7 linked regions of the Homo sapiens genome follow. The protein of the gene in region 3 purifies or fractionates together with the protein of the main gene of each other region. This does not show direct contact. Each region holds a gene or a part of one and is shown on either strand. Other genes may lie near its edges.

Region 1 (3,500 bases), on a different chromosome or scaffold from region 3:
ATAGTGGTCAGGTGCCCCTGTAGTTAAGTGTAATCATGTGTTGCTTAACAGGGATGTGTTCTGAGAAATGTGTCATTAGGCAATTTGGTTGCTGTGTGAACATCATACGGTGTACTTACACAAACCAACATGGTATAGCCTACTACACTCCTATTCTATATGGCAGGGCCTATTGCTCCTTGGTAACAAAACCTGTACAGCATGTTACTATAGCTAATACGGTAGGCAGTTGCAACACAATGGTACCTATTAGTGTATCTAAACATAGAAAAAGTACAGGGAAAATATGGTATAAAAGATAAAAAATGGTACATCTTTATAGGGCATTTACTATGAATGGAGCTTTCAGGACTGAAAGTTACTCTTGATGAGTCAATGAGTGAGTGATAAGTGAATGTGAAGGCCTAAGGCCCTTACCATACACTACTGTAGACTTTATAAACACTGTACACTTAGACTACACACTAAATTTATAAAAAAGTTTCTTCAATAATTAACCTTACTGTAACTTTTACACTTTGTAAACTTTTATATTTTTTTAACTTTTTGACTCTTTTGTAATAACACTTAGCTTAAAACACAAACACATCGTATAGCTGTATAAGCATCTTTCTTTATATCCTTATTCTGTGAGGTTTTTTCTGTTTTTAAAAATTGTTATTATTTTTTCCTTTTTAAACTTTTTCTTAAAAATGAAGATGGAGGCCGGGCTTGGTGGCTGACGCCTGTAATCCCAGCACTTTCGGAGGCCGAGGTGGGTGGATCACGAGGTCAGGAGATCGAGACCATCCTGGCCAACATGGTGAAACCCTGTCTCTACTAAAAATACAAAAATTAGCTGGGCATGGTGGCACACACCTGTAATCCCAGCTACTTGGGAGGCTGAGGCAGGAGAATCGCTTGAACCAGGGAGTTGGAGGTTGCAGTGAGCCGAGATCACGCCACTGCACTCCAGCCTGGCGACAGAGTAAGACTCCGTCTCAAAAAAAAAAAAAAAAAAAAAAGAAGATGGAAACACACACATTAGCCTAGGCCCACACAGGGTTAGGATTATCAAGATGTCACTTAGCAATGGGAATTTTTCAGCTCCATTATCGTCTAATGAAACCACCACTGTGTATTTGGTCTCTTGTTGAACAAAGCATGTTGGAACATTCTATGAGGTACCTTATGTTGCTTTTAAAAATATAAACAGATTTCTTTCAATAGAATTACACATTTCTTTATTGGTTTGCATTCTAAAAACGATCAAATTTAGTACAGTTGTCTCTCAGTAAAGGGGATTGGTCCCAGGACCCCTGAGAATACCAAAATCTGTGGATGCTGAAGTCCCTGACATAAAATGGCATAGTATTTGCATATGCACATCCTCCCTTATACTTTAAATCACCTCTAGGTTACTTATAGTCCTAATACAATGCTATATAAATCGTTGTCATACTGTGTTTTTAAAATTTATATTATTTTTCATTGTTGTATTGTTACTTTTATTATTTTTTGAACATTTTTGCTCTGTGATTAGTTGAATCCACAGATGCAGAGCTGGTGGATGGGAAGGGCCGACTACAGTTTATTGTTTAGCCAAATGGTTCTAGACTGCTGTTTACATGTTTCTGATCAGAACAAGCATTGCAGGACTTTAGTTACAGAAGTCCATGGAATTGATTGCATAGATTTAATGGCTGCCCATGTCTACCCAAAGGCCTATTTTGACTCTTGATTCTTAGCCCCATTCTGAAGAGGTAAGGTTATTGTATAGTTAACAGATGGACAAGACTTTTCCTTCCTTCCTTCCTTCCTCCCTCCCTCCCTCCCTCTCTGCTTTCCTTTCTTCCTCCCTCCTTTCCTTTCTCCCTCCCTCCTCCTTTCTCCTTCCCCTCTCTATTCCTCCCTCCCCCGTCTATTCCTCCCTCCCTTTCCTTCCCTTCCTCCCTTTCCTCTCTTCTTCTTGCTCTGTTGCCCAGACTGCAGTGCAGTGGCATGATCATGGTTCACTGTAACCTCGAACTCTTGGGCTCAAGGGATCCTCCTGCCTCTGCCTCCCAATTAGCTAGGACTATGGGTATGTGCCACCATGTCCACACTGAAGAAATAAACAAAGCTTCCTTAAATATGTGGTAGAATTTACCAGTGAAGCCATCTGGGCTTGGAGTTTTCTTTGTGGAAAAGTTTTAAATTATAGCTTCTGTTTCTTTAACAGATAATAAGGGCTCTTCAGGTTTTCTGTTTCTTTGTCAGTTTTGATGAATAGTGCTTTTCAAAGAATTTGTCCATTTTATCTAAAATTTAAAATTTGTTGTTTTAAAGTGTTCATAATATCCTCTAATTATCTTCTTTATAGGATTTGTAACGAGGTCTTCTTTTAATTCTTTGTTTTGGTAATTTGTATTTTCTCTCATTTATTTCTTGTTCAGTCTTAGTAGGGATTAACAGTTTTGTTAATTTTTTCAAAGAACCAATGTTTGGCTTTGCTTGTTTTCTCTTGTTATCTCTTCTATTTCACTAGTATCTGTTATTAGTTTCTCTCTTCTTTGGGTTTAGTTTGCTGTTCATTTCCTAACCTTTTAAGTTGGAAGCTTAGAGTGGTGGTTTTTACTTTTTCTATTTTCAATAATTTTCCCTCCAGGGACAGTTTTGGCAACCCTTCATGCTATCGTTCAGTTTAGAATATTTTTCTAGTTTTCATTGTGATTTGACATGCGGGGTTATTTAGAAGTGTGGTGCTTTATTTCTTAACATTTGGAGATTTTCTAGTTATTTTTCTGTTGTTGCGTTTCATGTAAATTCGGTAGTGGTGGAATCTATGGGTTGATTTTTTTTTTCTATCAGATTTGAAAATTCTCAGCCATTGGTTTTTCTAGTATTGCTGATTTCCCATTCTTTCTTTCTGTTCCTTCTGGGCTTTTAATTATGCCCAATATCTCATACTTTTTTGTGTTTGTCTTTTTCATTCATTTTTCTCTCTGTGCTTGGTTTGGATATTTTCTATTGACCTGCCTTCAAGTTTGTATTGTGTGTTGTTATACTCATCCAATTTAGATATGGTATTTTGCAGTTGTAGAATGTTCATTTTATTCTTTTTTATGGATTTTATTTCTCATAATACACTATCTTTTTATCCCTTTTCTTTTTTTTTCTTTAACATGTTTATCATAGTTTGAAGTCCTTACCTAGAGATGCTATTCTTTGGATTACCTCTGGGTCTGCTTCTATTGAATATTTTATCTCTTGATTAGTGGCTACTTTTTCTTGCTTCTTTGCATGTTCAATAATTTTAAAATATGTGCTGAACATTGTGGTTGAAACGTTGTAGAAGCTGTGAATTGTCTTCTTTTGAAAGATGTCACATTTTGTTCTAAGAGGCAGTTAAATTATCAGCTCTTCATCTTTGTTCTGTCAAGGCCTGGTATAATGTTTTCTTAGGTTAGGTCTGTTTGAGCTTTGTTTATATTTCTTCAGTGTGGTCCATTTTTCTAAGGTGTGGTCTTTGTGGGGTGTCA
Region 2 (3,500 bases), on a different chromosome or scaffold from region 3:
GCAACAGAGTGAGACCCTGTCTTGAAAAAAAAAAAAAAAAAAAAAAAAAAAAAAAAAAGAGTGACCTTGTTTTCTCCATATTCCTCATGTAGGAAAAAGCATGACCTTTTATTACCCACAGGTCAACCTTAAGAGCTATTCTAAACTAAAGCAAGGTTCCTGTTATAACTAACTGAAATATGAATGGAGATTGATGTTAGCAGTCTCAGGCAATTCTGGAATTCGGGAAAAGAATTCTAAATTCACGTCTTCTGACGTCACAGCACTTTCCCTGTTCATGGAGGCCCGTTCACTCCTTGTACAGTCAGTTTTCTAAGGGCAGGGCGTGGAGGTGAACTTCCTCCCAGGACTGGGAGCTGGATGAACAGTGAAGAGTAAAGCCACGGGAAGCCCCAGTCACCACACTCACAGTGTAACACAGAGAAAAGACACAAGAAAAGGAGGAAATGGAGATCAAAATGTCACTGCCGCTGTTTGAATCTGTAGCTCAAGCCCCATTCAAGGGGAGCCTCATTTTTGACACAGGCTTGCTGGTTTTTCCAAATCCCTGTTGACTCTTAAGCTGCCTAAGCGGTTTACAAGGATGAGCCTCCATTCACAACAATTTCTATTTAAGGAAAAACCATTGGGGATGGGCGCGGTGGCTCATGCCTGTAATTGCAGCACCCTGGGAGGGTGAGGTGGGCAGACTGCCTGAGCCCAGCAGTTCAAGACCAGCCTGGGCAACATAGTGAAACCCTCCCGCTTCTACAAAAAGTACAAAAATGGCCAGGCGTGATGGCTCAAGCCTGTAATCCCTGCACTTTGGGAGGCCAAGGCAGGCGGATCACAAGGTCAGGAGTTTGAGACCAGCCTGACCAACATGGTGAAACCCTGTCTCTACTAAAAATCCAAAAGAAAAATTAGCCAGGTGTGGTGGTGTATGCCTGTAATCTCAGCTACTTGGGAGGCTGAGGCAGGAGAATTGCTTGAACCCGGGAGGCGGAGGTTGCAGTGAGCCGAGATTGCACCACTGCACTCCAGCCTGGGCGACATAGTGAGACTCCGCCTCAAAAAAAAAAAAAAAAAGTACAAAAATTAGCCTTGTGTGGTGGTGCACACCTGTAGTTCCAGCTACTTGGGAGGTCGAGGTGGGAGGATAGCTTGAGCCTTGTAGGTGGAGGTTGCAGTGAACTATGATGGTGTCACTGCACTCCAGCCTGGGTGACAAAGCAAGACCCTGTCTCAAAACAAAAAAACAAAAAAAAATTATTGGCATGCAGATGCCGTTAGCTAACAGCGGTATCTGAGAGCACATGCCCAGTTTGCTTTTGTTTTCACGTCTTCAGAAAAGCATCCTGTAGGCATAATTTTCTTTTTGTAATAAGCTTTTCATTTGTGAGTGAGAGAGGCTAACCACCCACTTTGTGTTTCAGGCTATGGTTAAGGGCACACAGCTACAGCTCAAAGGCAGCAAGTGGAGAAAATGAGAATGAGGGGGCATGAAGAGGAGGACTGCCCGTCTTTATTTCGGTTGTAGAGTCACAGACACATCAGAAGAAGGCTCTGACGTTCAAACCAGAAGGCAGGCCACCGGAGCTCCTAGAAGCCCACAGGGGCGTAGGAGGCACCATGTGAGAAGGACAGAGGGCAGCGACCTGGCTGCCTCTCAGAGAGAGGTCATGTCGTTGAGAGCGTGGTCCAGTTCCTCGCTGATAGCTTTGTACTTGAGCTTCTGAGCGTATAACTCATCTAGAGGGCGGAGGTCCCCAGGGAGACAGTTCAGAAGTACAGGGGACAGAAGGCAAGGGTCGGAATGGAGTGCCACAGATGAACCACAAGAGGAAGAAAAAAACACGTGAGCAAACAAAGCACAGACTAGGAGAAAGCTGTGTTCCATGTGAAACAGATGAAGAAAACCAAAGATCTATGGAGTTGATCTCTAAGTGGTTTGAGGTTCTGCAGGGGGATTAGCCACAATGAAGCTTCAAAACAGTGGTAACCAGAAGTGACAGAGCTTCCCCCCACTGGTCCCCACCCCTCAGTTTATTTCGGATTTCCAATGACGTCACCCTGTCCAAAGGTCGTATTTTGGAATGGGGCATTTTCCCTTATATGGGAACCTCACTTCCCCAAAAAAACATTGGAAGATATGGTCTGAAGAATGTGTCCTTTCTGGGTGGGATGGGCAGTTTGGAAGATTCCATTTGAACCCCAAGATTCTGGAATTTCTGAGGCCGAATGTTAAACACTGGAACTCTTGAAAAAATTCTGGGAGAAGTGGGCCCCAGACTTGCAGACTAGTCTTTATTGCAGTCCCTACACTTTCTGTATTTCTGTTTTTTTTTTTAAATACTATGATAAGCTTTGAGCTCCCTGGGACAGAGCTTCTGCAAAAATGCAAGGCATGTAAAAAAAAAATGCAAGGCATCTATCAGAAATGAGCAAACAGAAGGAAATTGTGAAGTTTTTTTTTTTTTGAGACGGAGTCTGGCTCTGTCACCCAGGCTGGAGAGCTGTGGCGTGATCTTGGCTTACTGCAACCTCCGCCTCCCAGGTTCAAGGGATTCTCCCTGCCTCAGCCTCCCCAGTAGCTAGGATTACAGGCGTGCACCACCACGCCTGGCTAATTTTTTCTATTTTTGGTAGAGACGGGGTTTCACCATGTTGGCCAGGTTAGTCTCAAACTCCTGATTTCAAGTGATCCGCCCGCCTCGGCCTCCCAAAGTGCTAGGATTACAGGCTTGAGCCACTGCGCCTGGCCTGAGATTTTTAATTTATTATTAATATTTTTTTAATCAGAGAGAGCCATACTCTTTTCTCTATACTTGCTCATGGGACTAACTAAGCAGAGATATTTTACCTCCTGAAAGTGGCAATTCAATTAGCCAGGTGTGGCGGCACACGCCTGTAGTCCCAGCTACCTGGGAGGCTGAGGCAGGAGAATCACTTGAACCCGGGAGGCGCAGGTTGCAGTGAGCCGAGATGGCGCCACTGCACTCCATCCAGCCTGGGAGACAGAGCCAGACTCCGTCTCATAGAAAAAAAAAAAAAAAAAAAAAAGGGCCATTCAAGCCTGAATGCTTTGCATTATCCTATTCCAGTGTTCCAGGACATCCAGATATGACATCACTATGCGCTTTACTTTCCTAAGGCAAACAAAGCCCAACCCAGCCCCTCCACAAACATTCCCCAACTGTCCGTGGATGTGTCCCAGAGGGGAAGGCAGGGCAAGGCAAACATTTAGATGGTAACCTCATACCTTCCAGGTCATCAATTGTCTTTTCCAGTTTTGCAACCGTTCTCTCTGCAAATTCAGCACGGGTCTCAGCCTAGATAAGAAGAAAGGAGTTACTATCATGGCTTCAAGACCAGCCCCAGGAGAAACCAGAGCTCGCTGGGTGCCACCACACTCACCTCTTTCAGTTTGTCAGACAGAAGTTTAATTTCTTCTTCATATTTGTCCTCCTTTTCAGAATACTGTGGGAGAAACCAAAACACTGCTTTAAGAAAAGGAGGCC
Region 3 (3,500 bases):
CTGCTTCTACCTCCAATCCATTTTCTGTAAGATGACTTTTAATACATTAAATATGTCACCTGCTTAAAATCTTTCAATGGTCTACCATTGTATTTAAAATAATTCACACTCCTTGGCATAAGCCCTCTTTGATCTGGGCCTGTCTACGCATCTATCCTTACCTCATGCCTCTCTATTGTGTTCATCAAATATTCAAAGCTTTTTCCTACCTCAGGACATGACATATATGGTATTGCTTCCTTCTCCCTACAATGAAATGCTCTCCTCCTCATCCTTTTATCATCAGTTCGAATGCTGTTTTTGCAAAGAAGCTCACCTATTCTTACTATGCTGTCTAAATTAACTGACTCTTCCTTACCTTCAGCTAATCTTTCATCCTTTGTTACATTGCACGTATTATTCTGTAACACTTAACATTTACTACAATCTGAAATTTTCTTACTTGTTTTACTTGTTTATTGTCTCTTCCTTGAGAGCTAGTCCTTGGGAGCATAAGTTCTCAACTTACTGAATAAATGAAGTTACAATACTACTACTTTATCCTTCTTCCTATGTAGCTTAATAAGATTTTGATGATAAGTGGCAGCATACAGGCCAATTCATAAAACACCATAGACCCAATTTTTACACTGACTATTTAAGGAGTTCTGGGTAAAATCTTTTAAAACTTTTTGTTCTATAATTTGTAAAACCAGAGGAAATACCATCTTTAAGGTCTTGGCTGACAAATTCTGTTTTCCTGACTTGAAAGAGTTCACTCCGGTAATTATTTATTTTACATTCAAGATATCAGTATTACGTGGCCTTTTGATATGAAGAAATTATTGATATAGAAGAGGTAGCTAACTGGAATTAACAATTATTTGTATTGCTCTAAAAGTTCTTATTTCTGTTACTTAATTGTATCAGCCATAACACAGTCTCACTGGACCTGTTTCCTCTTCATACAGTATAATGAGGGAGGGGGACTAAACAGTCCCTTCTGGATTTTAAGTTCTGTGATTCTCTGAGAATGGATTATATTTTTATTTTTTATTAAAATTCTCTTGGTATCATAGCCAAGTTGCCCAGTCTAACTTATTTCTGGATTGATAGGAGAACAAGTTGTACTGGAAAAAAAAAAAACGAGTCTTTTTAAAATTAAAATATTAATTGAACATTGCATTTGAATCTTTACAGCTCTTCTAAAATGTTCTTTTAATTAATTTGAGATATTAATTTGCTTTTAGCAGTTATTATTCTGTAGATGCTTTTAGAAGTGTGTTACATTCTGTTCACTAAGGTACATGATTTGTATTTTTAAATGCCACCCTTTTTTATCTCATTGTTAAATAGGAAGTACCATTGGCACAAACTGCACAGCCCACATCAGCTATTGTTCGTCCAGCATCATTACAGGTTCCCAATGTGCTGCTTACAAGTTCTGACTCAAGTGTAATTATTCAGCAGGCAGTACCTTCACCAACCTCAAGTACTGTAATCACCCAGGCACCATCCTCTAACAGGCCAATTGTGTAAGTGATTCAGGCCAATCATTGAACATATACATGAATTAAGTTTGTTTTGTAATGATTTTTCCTAAGACATTTGATTATTCAAACTAAGATCTTAGTTTTGTATGTGTGTGCATGCTTCGAATTTTGGAAAAAGTACTTGCGTAGTCTTCTTTAATATAAATATTAACTAACAGAGTGGGAGATAAATACAACTAAAAACAAATATAGAATGTGAATTTAAGATAGTCTTATTTTCATGCTATTTCACACAAAATATAAAATTACTGCATCACCAGATTCCATTTCTTTCAGTTCTTACTGGTAGCTCCCAAGAGCTCTCTGATGACAGTTTTTCTCATTTTACAAATTGGAGATTGTCCTAAGTAAATCCATAACTTTTCTCTTCTTTTCAATACTGCTACACAGGTTATGCATTTAAGATGCAATTAAAAATAATTAAATTTTGCTATTTGCTTTGCTGTGGTTAGAAAATGTATTTTTAAATGATATGATTATAGGAGTAAAAATACTATTGTATTTTTAAGAGACAGTTGGTATGAATCTCTTTTTTAAAATTTCTCTTCTTTTGTTTTTCTTAGCCCTGTACCAGGCCCATTTCCTCTTCTGTTACATCTTCCTAATGGACAAACCATGCCTGTTGCTATTCCTGCATCAATTACAAGTTCTAATGTGCATGTTCCAGCTGCAGTCCCAGTAAGAAAGTTAGACTATTTAAATCTCTATCGCAAAACTGATCTTTGTAGTCAGAAAATAAAGTTGGCTGCTTGACTGGCTTATGAAATTGAATTTAACATAATATTGATTAGCAGTTGATAGTATTTATTTGTTATCATTGTAATAGCATATACCATTCAAGGTATAGCTATTTTTTCTCTTCTCCCCAAAACCTTAATTTTTTTTTTATACTGAGATCTTCTTATTCAACCCATATCAATTTGACTGGACTTGTAGCATTCAAATATTAACACAGATTTCAAATTTTAGAAAGATATTTGTACTAGAATACTTGTCAGGTAACTCTGTGGTATTTCTATTAGTATGGAAATTGTTTATAAAGACACACTCTGAATTTTTGTGGTCAAGTAGGGTTTGTAGAATCTTTGATAGCCCAGCATGTTAAAATGTAAATGTTCTAGAAAAATAATCTTTCACTTTCCCTGTGAAAAGACCCCGCAAAAAAGTTTTTTGAGGGGTGTGTTAAATATATAAATTTTGAAAGACGTAGACAAAATAGTTAACTATCTACTTATGATATTTAATAGTTTGGCCAGGCATGGCAACTCATGCCTGTTGTAATCCCAGCGTATTGGGCGGCTGAGGTAGGAGGATTGTGTGAGCCCAGGCGTTTGAGACTGCAGTGAGCTATGGATCCTGCCTGGATGACAGGGCAAGACCCCAAGTCAAAAAAAAAAAAAAAGTAATAGTTTAATGAACATTTAAAAACACATTGTTTGGAATAATGTGTGTTAGAAAATTGCTTTTTTCTTACTTACATTACATAAAACAGTTTTATTCAAACAAACTCTTCAGTTATGTCTTTGACATTCAAATTTTCATCCTGAGAACCACTTTTTGAGACATCTAGCACAGTTTCCAGAACACAGTATTTTCTTTTTCATCTAAATCATTTACGATATTACTTTATGAATCTCTCTATTATTCTCTCCCTGGAAATCTTACACCAAGCATTAGGTACTTATTTATGTAATAAAAAGATAGTTTTTTCTTTTACCTTCTAAGATGCTTGTTACTGATCAGTACAGTGTAATCATTTACAGTGTAGCTTTTAAAAATTATTTTTAGGCCAAGTGCAGTGGCTCATGCCTGTAATCCCAGCACTTTGGGAGACCAGGGTGGGTGGCTTGCCTAAGTCCAGGAGTTCAAGACCAGGCTGGGCAACATGGCAAAACCCCATCTCTACAAAAAATAAACACAAATTAGCCAGTTGTGATGGAAGCACCTGTAGTCTCAGCTACTCAGAAG
Region 4 (3,500 bases), on a different chromosome or scaffold from region 3:
ATGTAGACAGAAATGGCACCACTGCTTATGAAGGAAACTGGAACCCAGAAGCACACCCTCCCCTCATTCACCATGAGCATCATGAGGAAGAAGAGACCCCACATTCTACAAGCACAAGTAAGCAAGATGGCGGTCGGCAGTTCTGGGTTAGATGAATTAGTAAAGACATTCCAGCAATAGGGAAGATTTTGTTTAGAAATTGGCCGCATCTTCTATTTCCACTCGGTAATTTCTTTTATTCTTAGAGCCTGAAAAGCTGCTAAACCCGCACACAAATTTTAAAAATTGGAAGGAAAATGATAACTCATCAGGTTGCCCAAAGGCCAAAATGTTTTAAGAAGTAGATCTAGATACAATTTTTGTGTTAAAGGTTCCTAGAGGTTCCATTTGGGTAACTTGTGTGTGTTCATTGAAATGTGTGGCAAAGAGTGTGTTCTTTTGGTGCTTAGTAGTGGAATCTGGAAAGAAAGTTTGTCAAGTGAATTGATCTTTGGAATCCTTATTTTCTATGAAGATCTTTGATGAATACAGTGTCTTTTTTGCATTCTGTCCCTGACTGTTCTATAGAAAGACATCCCTTGTACTCTTTAGAGCAAAGTTGGTAGCTCTTATGGTCTTCATTTGAATTCTACCACTGCTTCTTTTTCTGTTTTTAAGCCCATGGTAACTTGGGGAAGGCTTTGATGCTCTTACTGTTATTTCTACTATTATGAAAACTCAGGTTTTCCAAAACAATCTCAAGTTGCGGCAGTGGACTGTGAGAATAGGGGGCCCCCTCACTCCCCAAACATAAGAAGTATGTGCTTTTCTTCTTTTATCTATCCCGCTGAGATATGTCTATCTTATTTGGAATAAAAGTATTTATTTTGGAAAACAGCTTTTTAGCATTTTTAAAATGATGACCCAACTGTCATTCTCACAGCCCTAGATACACCTAATGGGGAAATGTGAGCCACTTAAAAGCCACTTAAAAACCAAAGGGCTTTGGGAATCTATGGCTTGAGGGGTGCCTTCAGATAACAAAAGAAAAGTTTCAGGTATCAGTTAGGATAGAGGTTAGACATTGTACTGAATATATCCAGCAGATCTTACATCCCATTACAAACCCCAGTAGGTGTGTTGTATACATACGGCTTAGGGGTTAAGTTAACAAAGAAGTCTGATAAGAAAAGGAAATACAGAGGAAGCATAAATCTCTTTGGAATAGGATTTTGTTCCACTCCCTTAGAGCCCTAACAGTATACCTTAGAAATTATTTTAGACAGTTTGTACTTAAAGACCAGAAAGCTACTTTAGAGACTTGGAAATAATGAGCCTATTGTCAAAAGGTGGTGCTTGCGGGGCATTAGGACTAGAGGGTTGGTGAAAATTCAGACAGAATGTAACTTGACAAAGAGAAGACAGCAACAACTGTAACAATTATCTTATGAATATTTGCGAAACTCAAAGGGATCTGATTGGTGACCTCTGGGCTTTATCAAATTAACATCACAACTTCTAGAAGAAAGTCAACCTTCATCTTTTACAATAGAAATCATATGTTTTGCTAACCCATTCCTATTTAGGCTGAAAACAATTAAGAGTTATGGGTACTTAAAAAAATCATTATGTTTATAAAATTAGTGATAGAAGGAGCATAGTGTTCTATACAGTCACACACATACACTTCCTTATTTCTTTTATTTAAACTTTGAGTAACATAGCAGTCTATGTTTGGGTCAGTTTTCCCTTTTTTGTAATTACATTCAGTGGTTTTTGTAACTTCATTATTTATTGGGAATTAGTGATTTAGTCAGTGGGAGTTTTGTAAAACTTAAGATTTTGGCTTTTTTCCCCCTCCTCCTGGATAACCAGTTAACCCAATAATGGCTTGGCCGATGGAAGGGTAAAATGAGGACAGTTATATTTTTTAAATGTCATTACTGTCACCAAATCACACATATCATTTTCTAAGATAAGGAAATACAACCATTTTTACAAGTTGCAAAAAAGTACTCTGGCTTGGCAAGTTTATAGACTCTCATTTTCTTGATAAACTAAAAAAAAAAAAGAAATTGCTACAAGCTGCTATAGACAAAAATGTTGGTGTCTTTCTGACTTTTCCTGAAGACACCTTGATGGAATTATATTCTCTTGATTTTGTCCTTTTTAAAATGATGGTTGAAATTTTAAGCCTGTCACACACTATTATTTATATAATGCCTCAAACTGGCTTGGATAGTTTTCGTCAACTGAATTAATTTTGTTAAAAAGTGATTTTAGCAATTTTAGGTGCCATGTGGACATCACCAAATACTGTGTTAGTGGAATAGCATCCAAGCCATCCCACCATCTTTCCTGCTGGGCAAATCCACTGCTGGTGCATTTCCAGTGTGTGCGATTATGGGTTACATGACCACCATTTGAGAAGGTCTCCTAATGTGCTGATCTTGTTATTAGCTGTTATACAGTGTTTTCCTTTCGTCAAAATGACTGGAGCAAAGAGGTTATTCTTTGAATGGTTTTCTCAGACAGGGTATGTGAAGCCATTCACTACAGTAAAATAAAAATAATAATAACTCATAGAACTATGAGAATTCATCAGCTATGGTCTGCTTAGTCCTATGATTTTGAACAAATCAAAACTTCTTTGGACCACAATTTTCCTAGCTGAAAAATTAAACATTTGGATCATTTGATTTCTCATATCCCTTTTAGAATATCAGTGGCCTGTTTCCTTGGTGCCTTTCTTTTCTACCTTCCCTCCCCATGTGTATCTGCCCTTAAAGTAGAAAGATATGTTGACAGCTATTGGTGAGGAAAATAGACAATTATGTCTCCCAACTGATATTCTTCTCACAGTCCAGGCAACTCCTAGTAGTACAACGGAAGAAACAGCTACCCAGAAGGAACAGTGGTTTGGCAACAGATGGCATGAGGGATATCGCCAAACACCCAAAGAAGACTCCCATTCGACAACAGGGACAGCTGGTAATGGATGGTTTAACAAGTAAATTTGGATGGAAACTTCCTTTTGGGTTAAACGGTAGACATTGAGGACATTGAACAAAAGGACACTGGAGGAATTGTCACGAGATGTTAGGTTACTTAATAAATTATGCTGCAGTTCACACAGAGCCAAACCTTAAAGGCTCATAACAAGTCACCTGAACAGGAATGGATACAAGCCAGTTATGAATAAGAACAGGAAACACAGAGAAAATGCCCTTGAACATGTCTCTTTCACATCGAGTTTTGGGCATCATCTAGTGAGATTGTAGCAGAGGCCCTGATAAAATATCGCTGTCTGTTGTATAAAGGAATCTACTCTATAATGTGGGTCCAGACTTTACAATATGATTCTGCAAAGTCTGGCTGTGAGAAAGCATTTTGTCAGAACTCCAGTGTTTGAAGAAATAGAGCCAGACATTATGTGAAAAGTGACACCTGTCTGATGTCATTTGGCCTTTTGGCCATGCCTGTTCAGTAATTTGTTTTTGAGTATAAAAAAGGTATCTTCT
Region 5 (3,500 bases), on a different chromosome or scaffold from region 3:
TTTCACTGATGTCTCAAATCCGTCCCATGAGCACTGACTGAGTGCCAGGCAGATGCAAGTCCCTGTGGGGGGTGCTGGGTGCAACGGCACGTGTGAACGAGGTGGAGGGTTGTGTCTGCTCTCACAGAGTGCTGGTTTGCAGGTAGCTGTACACAGCATGCTTGGGGTTGTCGGGTGGGCTTCCTGGAGGAGGTGGCATTAAGGGGCAGGTTGAGTAGGAGTTCACCATAAAGGGGATTGCAGCAGGAGGTGGTAGTGTGGGCAAAGGCCGGGAGGCTGGAAGGGACGTGAACCTGGGGAACAGGCAAGGTCAGTGATCCCCTGGGGCTGGTATCCAGGGCCAGGGTGGATGGCCTCAGAGACCAGGCTGAGGAAGGGACCTTCCCCCTGAGGACAGTCAGGAGCTATAGAGGACATGAAAACTGAGAGGACAGCAAGTTTTCACTAAAGAACTGCATGTATAGGCCAGGCATGGTGACTCAAACCTGTAATTCCAGCACTTTGGGAGGCCAAAGTAAGAGGATTGCTTGAGCCTAGGAGTTCAAGATCAGCCTGGGCAACATAGTGAGACCCCATCTCTATATTAAAAAAAATTTTGGCCGGGTGCGGTGGCTCATGCCTGTAATCCTAACACTTCGGGAGGACGAGACGGGCGGATCACAAGGTCAAAAGATGGAGACCATACTGACCAACATGGTGAAACCCTGTCTCTACTAAAAATACAAAAAAAATTAGCTGGGTGTGGTAGCGAATGCCTATAGTCCCAGCTACTTGGGAGGCTGAGGCAGGAGAATCACTTGAACCTGGGAGGCGGAGGTTGCAGTGAGCCGAGATCGTGCCACTGCACTTCAGCCTGGCAACAGAGTGAAACTCCGTCTCAAAAAAAAAAATTTTTTTTTAATTAGTCCGACATGGTGGCACATGCCTGTATTCTAGCTACTCAGGAGGCTGAGGTGGGAGAATCCTTTGAGCCCAGGAGTTGGAGGCCGCAGTGAGCCATAATCGTGCCACTGCACTACAGCCTGGGCAATAGAGTAAGTCTGTCTCAAAAATAATAATAATAAAAAATAATTATCCCAGCTCTTTGGGAGGCCAAGGTGGGCGGATCCCTGGAACCCAGTAGTTTGAGAATATCGTGGGCAACATGGTGAAACCTTGTCTTTACCAAAAAAAAATAACAAAAATTAGCCAGGCGTGATGGCACACACCTGTGGTCCCAGCTACTCGGGAGGCTGAGGCGAGAGGATCCCTTGAGCCCAGGAGGTCGAAGCTGCAGTGAGCCAAGATTGCTTCACTGCACTCCAGCCTGGGCAGCAGAGCCAGACCCTGTATCAATAAATAAATAAATAAAACTTTAAAAAAATCCATGAACTATGAAACCAGCAGCCGTCCCTCTAAAACTGGAGGAGCACGCAGGGCTGAGCTGTAATTGAGGTTGTCTAGGGATGATGCTCCCATCTCAGCCATTGCTAATGTGGGCCTCGCCCTGCACTGGGCGCAGAAAGCCCTGCCAAAGCCACTGCCATTCCCACCACTGCGTAGATGGAGACTGGGTGGGAGGGGTGAGGCCTCTGTCCCGGGGCTCAGTTTCCCCAGCCTTACCGATTTCTGAACGAGTCTATCTGCGGCTCCCCCTGGTGGCTCAAGATGGAATAGCACCCTGCCCTTTGTGTTTTGGGGAGACTTTTTTTTTTTTTTTGAGACGGTGTCTCACTTTGTCACCCAGGCTGGAATGCAGTGGCGCATTCTGGGCTCACTTGAAACCTCCGCCTCCTGGGTTCAAGCGATTCCCCTGCCTCAGCCTCCCGAGTAGTTGGGATTACAGGTACCTGCCACCACACCTGGCAAATTTTGTATTTTTAGTAGAGACGGGGTTTCACCATGTTAGCCAGGCTGGCCTCGAACTCCTGTCCTCAGGTGATCCACCTGCCTCGGCCTCCCAGAATGCTGGGATTACAGGCGTGTGTCACTGCGCCTGGCCTGGGGGAGACTTTTGAGTCTTTTTGAGGTGACACCTGGAGACTGCACAATCACTGGGGCAGGCCCCCCACAACACCCAAGAGTGGCATACTTAGGTGTCCAGGTCCCACCCGGCTACAGTTGGGGGTGGTGGGTCTCCATTTATCACCAACTCCCATCAGAAACGGGCCTGAGAAGCGTCTCTGTGGCTACCAGAGTTTTCCCAGTTTAAGTTCTCACATATATTTGTGTTGTCATTTCCTTTTTTTGAGACAGAGTCTCGCTGTTACCCAGGCTGGAATGCAGTGGCAAAATCACAGCTCACTGCAGCCTCAACCTCCTTGACTCAAGCGATCCTTCCACCTCAGCCTCCTAAGTAGCTGAGACCACAGGTGCATGCCACTACCATGCTCAGCTAATTTGTTAATTTAGGTTTTTGGTTTTTTTGGTTTTTATTTTTTTGAGATGGAGTCTTGCACTGTCGCCTGGGCTGGAGTGCAATGGTGCGATCTTGGCTCACTGCAACCTCCGCCTCCCAGGTTCAAGTGATTCTGCCCCACCTTCCCAAGTAGCTGAGTTTAACAGGCGCTTGCCACCACGCCTGGCTAATTTTTTGTATTTTTATTTTTATTATTTTTTGTTTGTTTGTTTTTTTTGAGACGGAGTCTCGCTCTGTCTCCCAGGCTGGAGTGCAGTGGCCCGATCTCGGCTCACTGCAAGCTCCGCTTCCTGGGTTCACGCCATTCTCCTGCCTCAGCCTCCCGAGTAGCTGGGACTACAGGCGCCTGCTACCACATCCGGCTAATTTTTTGTATTTTTATTGGAGATGGGGTTTCACTGTGTTAACCTGGATGGCCTCGATCTCCTGACCTTGTGAGCCACCTGCCTCGGCCTCCCAAAGTGCTGGGATTACAGGCATGAGCCACTGCGCCCAGCTAGTTTTTTGTATTTTTAGTGGGGACAGGGTTTCAGTATGTTGGCCAGGCTGGTCTCGAACTCCTGACCTCATGATCTGCCCACCTCAGCCTCCCAAAGTGCTGGGATTACAGGCATGAACCACTGTGCCCGGCCTTCTTTTTTGCTTTTTTTGGAGATGGAGTCTCTGTCACCCAGGCTGGAGTGCAGTGTCACCATCATAGCTCGCTGCAGCCTTGAACTCCTGGGCAATCCTTCTGCCTCAGCCTCCCAAGGAGCTACAGATTTCCCCTTTTAAAAGCACACAAGCCATGTGGATTAGGGCCCACCCTAATGACCTCATTTTAACTCGATGACCTCTGTACACAACCCTGTGTCCAAATAGGATCATATCCTGGGGTACTGGTGGTTGGCACTGGGGAGACACAGTTCACCCCATGACATAGTGCATGATCTCATGACATCTCTTTGTGAAACCTCTCAGTGGCTTATTGGCCCATTTTATAGATGAGGAAAGCTGAGGCCCAGGCCAATCAAGAATATACAGCATGCCATCATTTCTTGGTTCATTCTACAAGCAATTACTGAGTGCCTGCTGTGTGCCAAGCCCCTGTGTTGGGCACTAG
Region 6 (3,500 bases), on a different chromosome or scaffold from region 3:
CAATCAAGGAAATCATGAAAGAGACTGTGGATGTGGCTAAAAAAACTGGCATAGCGGTGGTGAAGGGTTTCAAGATATGAATCTTGGAGAAACTCAAGAGCTAACAGACATTACATCAGAGGAATTAACACAAGATGACAGGCCAGGTGCAGTGGCTCACGCCTGTAATCCCAGCACTTTGGGAGGCTGAGGTGGGTGGATCACCTGAGGTCGGGAGTTCAAGACCAGCCTGACCAACATGGAGAAACCCCGTCTCTACTAAAAATACAAAATTAGCTGGGCTTGGTGGCTCACGCCTGTAATCCCAGCTACTCGGGAGGCTGAGACAGGAGAATCGTTTGAACCCAGGAGGCGGAGGTTGTGGTGAGCCAAGATTGTGCCACTGCACTCCAGCGTGGGCGACAAGAGCGAAACTCCATCTCAAAAAAATAAAAAATAAAAACAAAAAAAACCAAACAGAAGATGACTTGATGGAGACGACTGCTTCCAAAGCAGTGCCAGACGATGAGGAAGATGATGTAGAAGCAGCAGTGCCAGAAAACAAACTGACATTAGACAATCTGGCAGAAGGCTTCTGATTATTCAAGACTGCTTTTGACTTCTTTTATGATATGGACCCTTCTATGATAGAGGCACTGAAACTGAAGCAGTGGAAGAGGGACTGGTACTATACAGAAATATTTTTAGAGAAACAAAAAAGCAGAAGTCAGACAAATCACGATGTATTTCCATTGAGTTACACTGAGTGTGCCTCCTGCCCATCCTGCCTCCCCTTCTACCACTCTTCTGCCTCTGACACCCAAGACAGAAAGACCAGCCCGTTCTTCCTCCACAGCCTATTCAACATGAAGATGATGATGACCTTTTTGATGATCTACTTCCACTTAAGGCATAGTAAATGTGTTATCTCTTCCTTATGATTTTCTTTTTTTGGAGACGGACTTTCACTCTTGTCGCCCAGGTTGGAGTGCAATGGCACCATCTCAGCTTACTGCAACCTCCGCCTCCTTGGTTCAAGCAATTCTCCTGCCTCAGCCTCCCGAGTAGCTGGGATTACAGGCATGCACCACCACACCTAGCTAATTTTTGTATTATTATTAGAGATGGGGTTTCACCATGTTGGCCAGGCTGGTCTTGAACTCCTCACCTCAGGTGATCCACCTGCCTTGGCCTCCCAAAGTGCTGGGATTACAGGCATGAGCCACCGTGCCCTGCCCTTATGATTTTCTTAATAACATTTTCTCTAGCTTACTTTATTTAAGGGAATACAGTATATAACACATATGATATACAAAATATGTGATAGTTAATTGTGTTATTGGTAAGGGTTCGGGTCAACGGTCAGCTATTAGGAGTGGGGGAGTCAAAAAATTATACATGGATTTTCAACTCCTTGGGGACTGATTCCCCTAACCCCCAAGTTGTTCAAGGGTCAACTGTACACTTAAGGCAACTAGTCATCACTACTATAACCAGATATAGTTGAATTCAAAATATACTTTGTGGTTACTAAAATCTGGACAAATTAGTTCTCATGCATATCTAACATGTACATATTTCAACTAGAGAATTAGAACCTGCAAAAAAGAAAGATAAAAGAAAAAAATTAACATGTCTATACTATATAATGGTAACTTCTAGATATAACCCATCCTGTACTGCCCAGTTGAGTCTCCAGGCGAATAATAAAGACTGTACCAAAGATGCAAAGGTCAAGCAAGGAGGAAGGCGAATAAACATGTAAGTAGAGTTGGCCCTCTATATCCGCAGGTCCCGCATCCAGATTCCACCAACCATGCACTGATAACATGGCAGGGGGGGTGGGGTGGGGGGATGGACAATAATACAACGGCAAAAAATAATATAAATTTTAAAGACAATATAGTATAGCAACTATTTATATAGCATTTATGCTATATTAGGCATTATAAGCAATCTAAAGGTGATTTAAAGTGTATAGAAGGATGTGTATAGGTTATACACAAATACCATACCATTTTATATAAGGGTTAAGCATCCACAAACTTTAGTATTCAAGGGGGCGGGGATCCTAGAACCAATGCCCTGTGGATATCAAGGGATGACTGCATACGTCTGACCGAAGTTTAATGAATGTAGGACTAATTGCTTGTCACTCCCTCCAACTCATGGCCATGTGAAGTCAACTATGTGTATGCATGTTAATACCCTTTGGGGTATAAAAGTATAAAATATGATTTGGATCTGTGATATATTATGTTGGGGTAGATTTGTCAGCTTTTTGATAAATTAAAAATGAATGAACTTTGCTGGGCATGGTGGCGCATGCCAATAGTTTCAGGTACTGGAAAGGCTGACAACAGGATGACTGCTTGAGCCCAGGAGTTTGAGACAGGCCTAGGTAACACAGCAAGACCTTGTCTATTAAAAAGAATGGTCTATGAGCACAGACATCAGTGCAGAAGTAGTGAATGCAATCTAGAATCGCATAAATCGCAGCTAAGGATGTAGCTGAGGAAACTGATGGTTCTGCTATAATCCAGGCCACTTAGGATACTCTGGAAATGTTCATTCAAAAATCATCATAATGACATTAAAGAAAACCTCTTAGATAGGCAGTTATTTAGAAATGTAACGGACACCCACCAAGGTAGCAATTACAAATGTCTAAGCACAAGCTGCTCACTAATGGTTAGGGGCAGTACAGATGAGACTCACGCAGTAAATAACTGTTGGACTAGAGGACTTCTGAAGAGGGCAGGCAGCTAAGCCAAGGTTATTTCTACCTGTTACTATATCCTTTATTAAACCTTTTCAGGTAATGATGACTGTTACGCAACTACAAAAAGGAAACACACGGGAAGAAAAGTCTTGTTTTTACCTGGCCTACTCACCTAGCAATGCGATTATTGTCTGTCTTCCGGACTCTGCGGATGGCTGTGATATTGGCCCGCATAAGGTAGTGCTGAGCTAAATCTACAAATCCAAGAGTAGAGATGTCAAGCTGGGTTCTGAACTGGTTTTATAATCAAAGTACTCTTAACCATGACACTATTACGCCCCTGCCAAACATGAGGGGAGAAAACAAATCACCCACCCTCGTCTACCTCAAAGGTAGGCTGGAAAAAGTAACAAAGTCCCACCTGAGATGCCCTTTTCAGTGATGACCACATCGGGCTTCAGTTGGATAATGTCCTCACAGAGCTGCTGGATGTACTCTTCCTCCATCTGGAGAATTCGGGTGAAGTCCTCCTCTCGTGTAATCTCAATGTCAGTCTGTGTGGTAAAGAAAAGACACTGATTTTAAAATCCCTGGACTGGTGAAGCTCTAAGGGTCATATTATACTCCTTCCACCCACCTCTCCCACGTATCTCAGAGTCAGAATTATGTTAAAGCCATGACCTCAACACCTCTGTAAGCCAATTTAGCTTTAGTTTTGCTTTTTTTTTTTTTTGAGACGGAATCTTGCTCTGTCACCCAGGCTGGAGTGTAATGGCGCGATCTTGGCTCACTGCAAGCT
Region 7 (4,079 bases), on a different chromosome or scaffold from region 3:
TGTTCTCTGTTAAAACAACTTGACTCTGCTGTTGAAGCACAGAAGCAGTCACAGATAATAAACAAATGGGCATGGCTGCATTCCAATAAAACTACTTAGAAAAACAAGTCAAGTTAGATTTGGCCATAGTTTGATGACTTTCAAGCCACTGAGACTTGGGGTTTTTTTGCCACTGCAAAATAATCTAGCCTATCTTGACTGATAGGGATCCTCTACCTTTAAGGATTCCTTTTCCTTTAAAAGAAAGAAAAACTGCCTTACACTTACCTTAATTTTGACTGTTAGTTCCTCATTTCCAGAAAGAGCATTTTCATCAGTCAGTGATATTAGCCTTATCTTATCTAAAGCATCAGAAGCATTTGAAATCAGTTCTCTCAGGAAAATCTAAATGGAAGCCAGAGGGAATACACTTAGACTATCCTCAAGATGCATTAAGATATTCGATTTTATGCCAAACCCATTTATTTCTTCTCTGTACCTTATAAAAGCACTCTTATTCACCTAACAGTGATCTTCAGGTATGCAATGCAAGAAGTTTAGTTTATGTGACTGCCCTTAGACTCACAACTATTATCAGGCCGTGAACCTATTTAGAGGTAAAGGAAAAGGAAAATGTCTGACACTCCCTTTCTTCCCAGATATCTGGTAGCAATTCTTGGACATATTAGGTATTTAAAGGTTGTTACCTACTTACTTGGATACTACATTACTTTTGCAGTAAATTAAGCAAATTTAAGTAAACAAGTATGCCACCATACAGAGATAAAATATTCTAACCACATGTTGCTTACCTCTTTATTTTTATACAATGAATTGATGATAAGTTTCATCATTCTGTTAACTTCGGCTTGGAAGGCAAACTTTTCCGACTTCTCTCTAAGTTCTCTTATTTGTGATGCATTTAATCCATCCAACTGAATAGCTTCTTCCTCTCTAAGGAAATCAGTTAGGTAAGCAAATATTGCATGGCATAGTTCCCTTCAAAACTAGAGGAATTATGATGAAAGCACAGGGGCCTCTGAATATTGTCTTGGGGGTTAAAATGGAAACCTTTATAAAATATAACTGATATACCGTCTCATTATGTTAGCACAGCAGTAGGCTACCTTTAACATTACACTGGAAATACTCGGTTCTTAAAATTGCCAGAAAAAAAAAAATCCCAACTTTCCTCTACTAAAAAGCAAAGTCATACTCATTTATGCTCCACAGTGAGGACTTCAAAACTGTCAATAAGTCCCAAGAGGCCAAATTTTAAAATATTGTTCAACTGACAGAAATCCCATTTTTAAACTTACTCGGTGTACACAGTTAATGAATACAAATCCAACTGAAAGTATCTTCTATAAAGTCTTACAAAGTTTATGGTGCTAGTATTCTGCAATATAGTTTTCAAAGGAATTCACTCAGTTTTCATCACTCCTAGGGACAAGTTAGGAGGTATGTATGCACACAACTCACCGGGTATTTAAATACAGGGTGTTAGACTTTATCTGGACCTTTGGAGAAGAGATACATAAGAAGTGACCGTAACTCACAAGGTTCACACGGCTTATCTGTATACGTAAGTTCAAATGAACACAAACCTCTGTACTACTTCATCATCCGTCCTTGATCCTTCTCTACTTTTACCCAGATCCTCTTCTACTGTACCATCCACATCAACTTCATCGTCAGCTCTGACCGACCCTGAAGATTTAACACGGGCAAACTCTTCAACATCACACTTCTCCAAGGAGGATGATCAAATAGGGAAGGGTAGGGGTTGCAAAATTCAGTTGGTAACTAAGGGAGGTGGGGATGAAAGAGTGCATTCCCTGGTTTAAATACCAAAGGTAAAGCCAAGACAGAACATCTATTTAAGTTCAGATGCTGAAGTCTCCAGTAGATCCTGAAATACGGAGGCAGTCACCACTTCTAAACAGTGTGTCTCCGATCATTTATAAATAACGTTAAGCAGACTGATACCAGGCCTCTTCTACACCCACACGTGTTGCGCGCAGGCCGAGCCAAGGCCTCCCAACTGATCAAGCCAAAACTTCGGCCTTCGTTAGCACAGGTCAGAATGCAAATAGGATTTATGCAACCTCTGGCGAGGGGAACTGAAATTGAGCCCAGAGGCATGAGAAGGGGGAGAAATGTTAAGAACCGAACTCCAGCAAAACTGAATCAAACACGCTGACACTGCCATTCCGCTGGCCCCAGGCCTCACGCTCCCGAGGCCAGCATCTAAGAAGGGACACGGGCTTGCGAGGAGTCGGAGTCTGGGGAATTAGGGGACGGGAAAGCTGGGATGGCCGAAGGTTGCGGTGGCCGAAAAAGTCCTCCGGGCGGGGAGGGGGGAGGGACTCGCACAGCTCCCGGGGGAGCCAGAGCCTCAGAGAGGCCCCACCCCGAGGTCGCTGAGACCTCCGGGCGAGATACTATTAGATCTGTAGGGCAGTTAGATGATGTTGCTCTCTTTTTTTATTTCCAGAGGAAGAAGAGAATAAACGTAATTCCCTTGCCCTCTTTCGAGGAATGGTGACGTCCCTTGGCCCACCGCAGGCCCCGGGATCCCCCCTCCCACGTTCAACGCCCCCAGGACCTTCGAGAAGCGGCCGCGTGTGTGGAGGGGGGACGTCTGCTCCTCCAGAATCACTCACCGAAGGTCAGCAGGACGCAGCAGAGGCCCAGCACCCACAGGGCCCTCATGGCGTGCGGCCGGTGAGTCTCAAGTCCCCTTCGATCGCAGGAGCCGCCTCCACCCCCCACCCCTGGGTTCGGATCCTCACACCTCCAGCCGCGCGGTCCGCCCACTACACCGCAAGCAGGTCGGGCCGCTTTTCACCCCCACTTCCCGCGGGCGGGGGACGGGAAACATGAACCCACCAATCGCGCCGCACCACGCACCCACGGCACCCAATGAGGATTCGTGAGGGGGGGCGGAAGTCCACCAATCGGAGCTGTCCAGGTGCGGTGACCGATGCCCGAAGCGTGGCTCCTTCCGATTGGTCAGGGTTTGCAGCTTTTCTCCAATCAAATGGCTCCGCGGGCCCCTCACACGTGGGACCGCCCCTTTGCCTGGGCGGCCTTGGCCTCTAAGGGAAAACGTCCAATGAATGTAAGCAGAGAACACATCCATCCTTTTAGAGAGGTCGCGGCGGAACTACTTCCGGATCCTAGAGAGCGTTTATTCCGTGACCGGGGAAACGGTAGCCATGGCAACGTGTTCTTCACCCTTTCCCATCTATGCCTGGGGTTTCGTTGGAAGTGATTCCAGCACGACTTTCGCGGCCAGCTTTCTCGTGTGGCGGCGCTTCTCGGAAAGAAGAAACACACGAGAGAGGTTGCAAATCCCCTAGAACCCTTTCAGATGGCGGGGGGGCGGGGGGGTGGCGGTGGTGAGAAACTACAGCTCCCGGCATGCAACGTCCTAGGGGTTCACTGCATTGAATGCTGGGGGTCGTAGTCTTTGGTCTCTGAGGACCAGCTGCGTAGTTTTGGCCCTTTCTTTCACGTTCCCCCAGCGTGTCTTTGCCAGAGCCCTGCCCTGCGTCTTAGATGTTACATCTCGTTCTGATTACAGTAGAGATATGTGCCTATTCCAGGAGTCTCCATTGTACACAGCTTTTAGAAGCGGGCCTAGAAAGCCTTCATGCCTCGGGCAAGGCCGCCCGGTTCTGGGGGGTCGGTCTGAGTCTGGGGGCTCCGCCTCCGGCTCAAGAGCACGAGTTTCCGAATCCGCCTACAAGTGCGTCACTTGGGCAGCCGGAGCGTTCACCTCCTCTGTGCCTTTCCGCGGCCGGAATCCCCAGGCCTTCCTTATCTGGTTTACAGAAGAACGTGGTTGGGACCTTCCCGACCACCTTAGGGAAATCGCGAGCAGCGCTGAGGCCTTCGACTCCCCAATAAAGTACAAAGGCGGCGGTGACCTGACGGTCGTAGAACCCTTTCTGTGAATCAGGTGGAGAGCGTGGTCGTAAAAGCGGGTCTAGCACAGAAAAGGAAAACCCTTAGTTTAACGAGTGCAGGAGGATGCACCTGCAGATATTTGAAAGCAAAACCTGTGGTGCTGCACATGAGAACGGGATTGCAGC

The links.
Region 1: the proteins of ATF2 (region 3) and RAD18 purify together in Homo sapiens (affinity purification with mass spectrometry; 2 studies listed by BioGRID and IntAct, with this or other methods). This does not show direct contact.
Region 2: the proteins of ATF2 (region 3) and TPM4 purify together in Homo sapiens (co-immunoprecipitation; 2 studies listed by BioGRID and IntAct, with this or other methods). This does not show direct contact.
Region 4: the proteins of ATF2 (region 3) and CD44 purify together in Homo sapiens (co-immunoprecipitation; 2 studies listed by BioGRID and IntAct, with this or other methods). This does not show direct contact.
Region 5: the proteins of ATF2 (region 3) and COLGALT1 purify together in Homo sapiens (co-immunoprecipitation; 2 studies listed by BioGRID and IntAct, with this or other methods). This does not show direct contact.
Region 6: the proteins of ATF2 (region 3) and CCT3 purify together in Homo sapiens (co-immunoprecipitation; 2 studies listed by BioGRID and IntAct, with this or other methods). This does not show direct contact.
Region 7: the proteins of ATF2 (region 3) and HSP90B1 purify together in Homo sapiens (co-immunoprecipitation; 2 studies listed by BioGRID and IntAct, with this or other methods). This does not show direct contact.

Annotation. Positions count from the first base shown.
Region 1 is NC_000003.12:8,942,973-8,946,472, reverse strand, and holds part of RAD18 (E3 ubiquitin-protein ligase RAD18), read left to right. Parts: intron 1-3,500. UniProt on the Homo sapiens protein: E3 ubiquitin-protein ligase involved in postreplication repair of UV-damaged DNA. Postreplication repair functions in gap-filling of a daughter strand on replication of damaged DNA.
Region 2 is NC_000019.10:16,093,495-16,096,994, reverse strand, and holds part of TPM4 (tropomyosin alpha-4 chain), read right to left. Parts: intron 3,460-3,500; coding exon 3,397-3,459; intron 3,312-3,396; coding exon 3,242-3,311; intron 1,732-3,241; coding exon of another isoform or gene 1,649-1,731; exon of another isoform or gene 251-1,648; intron 1-250. UniProt on the Homo sapiens protein: Binds to actin filaments in muscle and non-muscle cells. Plays a central role, in association with the troponin complex, in the calcium dependent regulation of vertebrate striated muscle contraction.
Region 3 is NC_000002.12:175,112,704-175,116,203, reverse strand, and holds part of ATF2 (cyclic AMP-dependent transcription factor ATF-2), read left to right. Parts: intron 1-1,335; coding exon 1,336-1,514; coding exon of another isoform or gene 1,515-1,518; exon of another isoform or gene 1,519-1,961; intron 1,962-2,095; coding exon 2,096-2,210; intron 2,211-3,500. UniProt on the Homo sapiens protein: Transcriptional activator which regulates the transcription of various genes, including those involved in anti-apoptosis, cell growth, and DNA damage response.
Region 4 is NC_000011.10:35,201,671-35,205,170, forward strand, and holds part of CD44 (CD44 antigen isoform 1 precursor), read left to right. Parts: coding exon 1-117; exon of another isoform or gene 118-874; intron 875-2,841; coding exon 2,842-2,970; intron 2,971-3,500. UniProt on the Homo sapiens protein: Cell-surface receptor that plays a role in cell-cell interactions, cell adhesion and migration, helping them to sense and respond to changes in the tissue microenvironment.
Region 5 is NC_000019.10:17,572,649-17,576,148, forward strand, and holds part of COLGALT1 (procollagen galactosyltransferase 1 precursor), read left to right. Parts: intron 1-3,500. UniProt on the Homo sapiens protein: Beta-galactosyltransferase that transfers beta-galactose to hydroxylysine residues of type I collagen. By acting on collagen glycosylation, facilitates the formation of collagen triple helix. Also involved in the biosynthesis of collagen type IV.
Region 6 is NC_000001.11:156,314,293-156,317,792, forward strand, and holds part of CCT3 (T-complex protein 1 subunit gamma), read right to left. Parts: intron 3,256-3,500; coding exon 3,123-3,255; intron 2,956-3,122; coding exon 2,874-2,955; intron 1-2,873. UniProt on the Homo sapiens protein: Component of the chaperonin-containing T-complex (TRiC), a molecular chaperone complex that assists the folding of actin, tubulin and other proteins upon ATP hydrolysis.
Region 7 is NC_000012.12:103,929,131-103,933,209, reverse strand, and holds the start of HSP90B1 (endoplasmin precursor), read right to left. Parts: upstream 2,801-4,079; 5' UTR 2,695-2,800; coding exon 2,646-2,694; intron 1,690-2,645; coding exon 1,587-1,689; intron 934-1,586; coding exon 792-933; intron 385-791; coding exon 268-384; intron 1-267.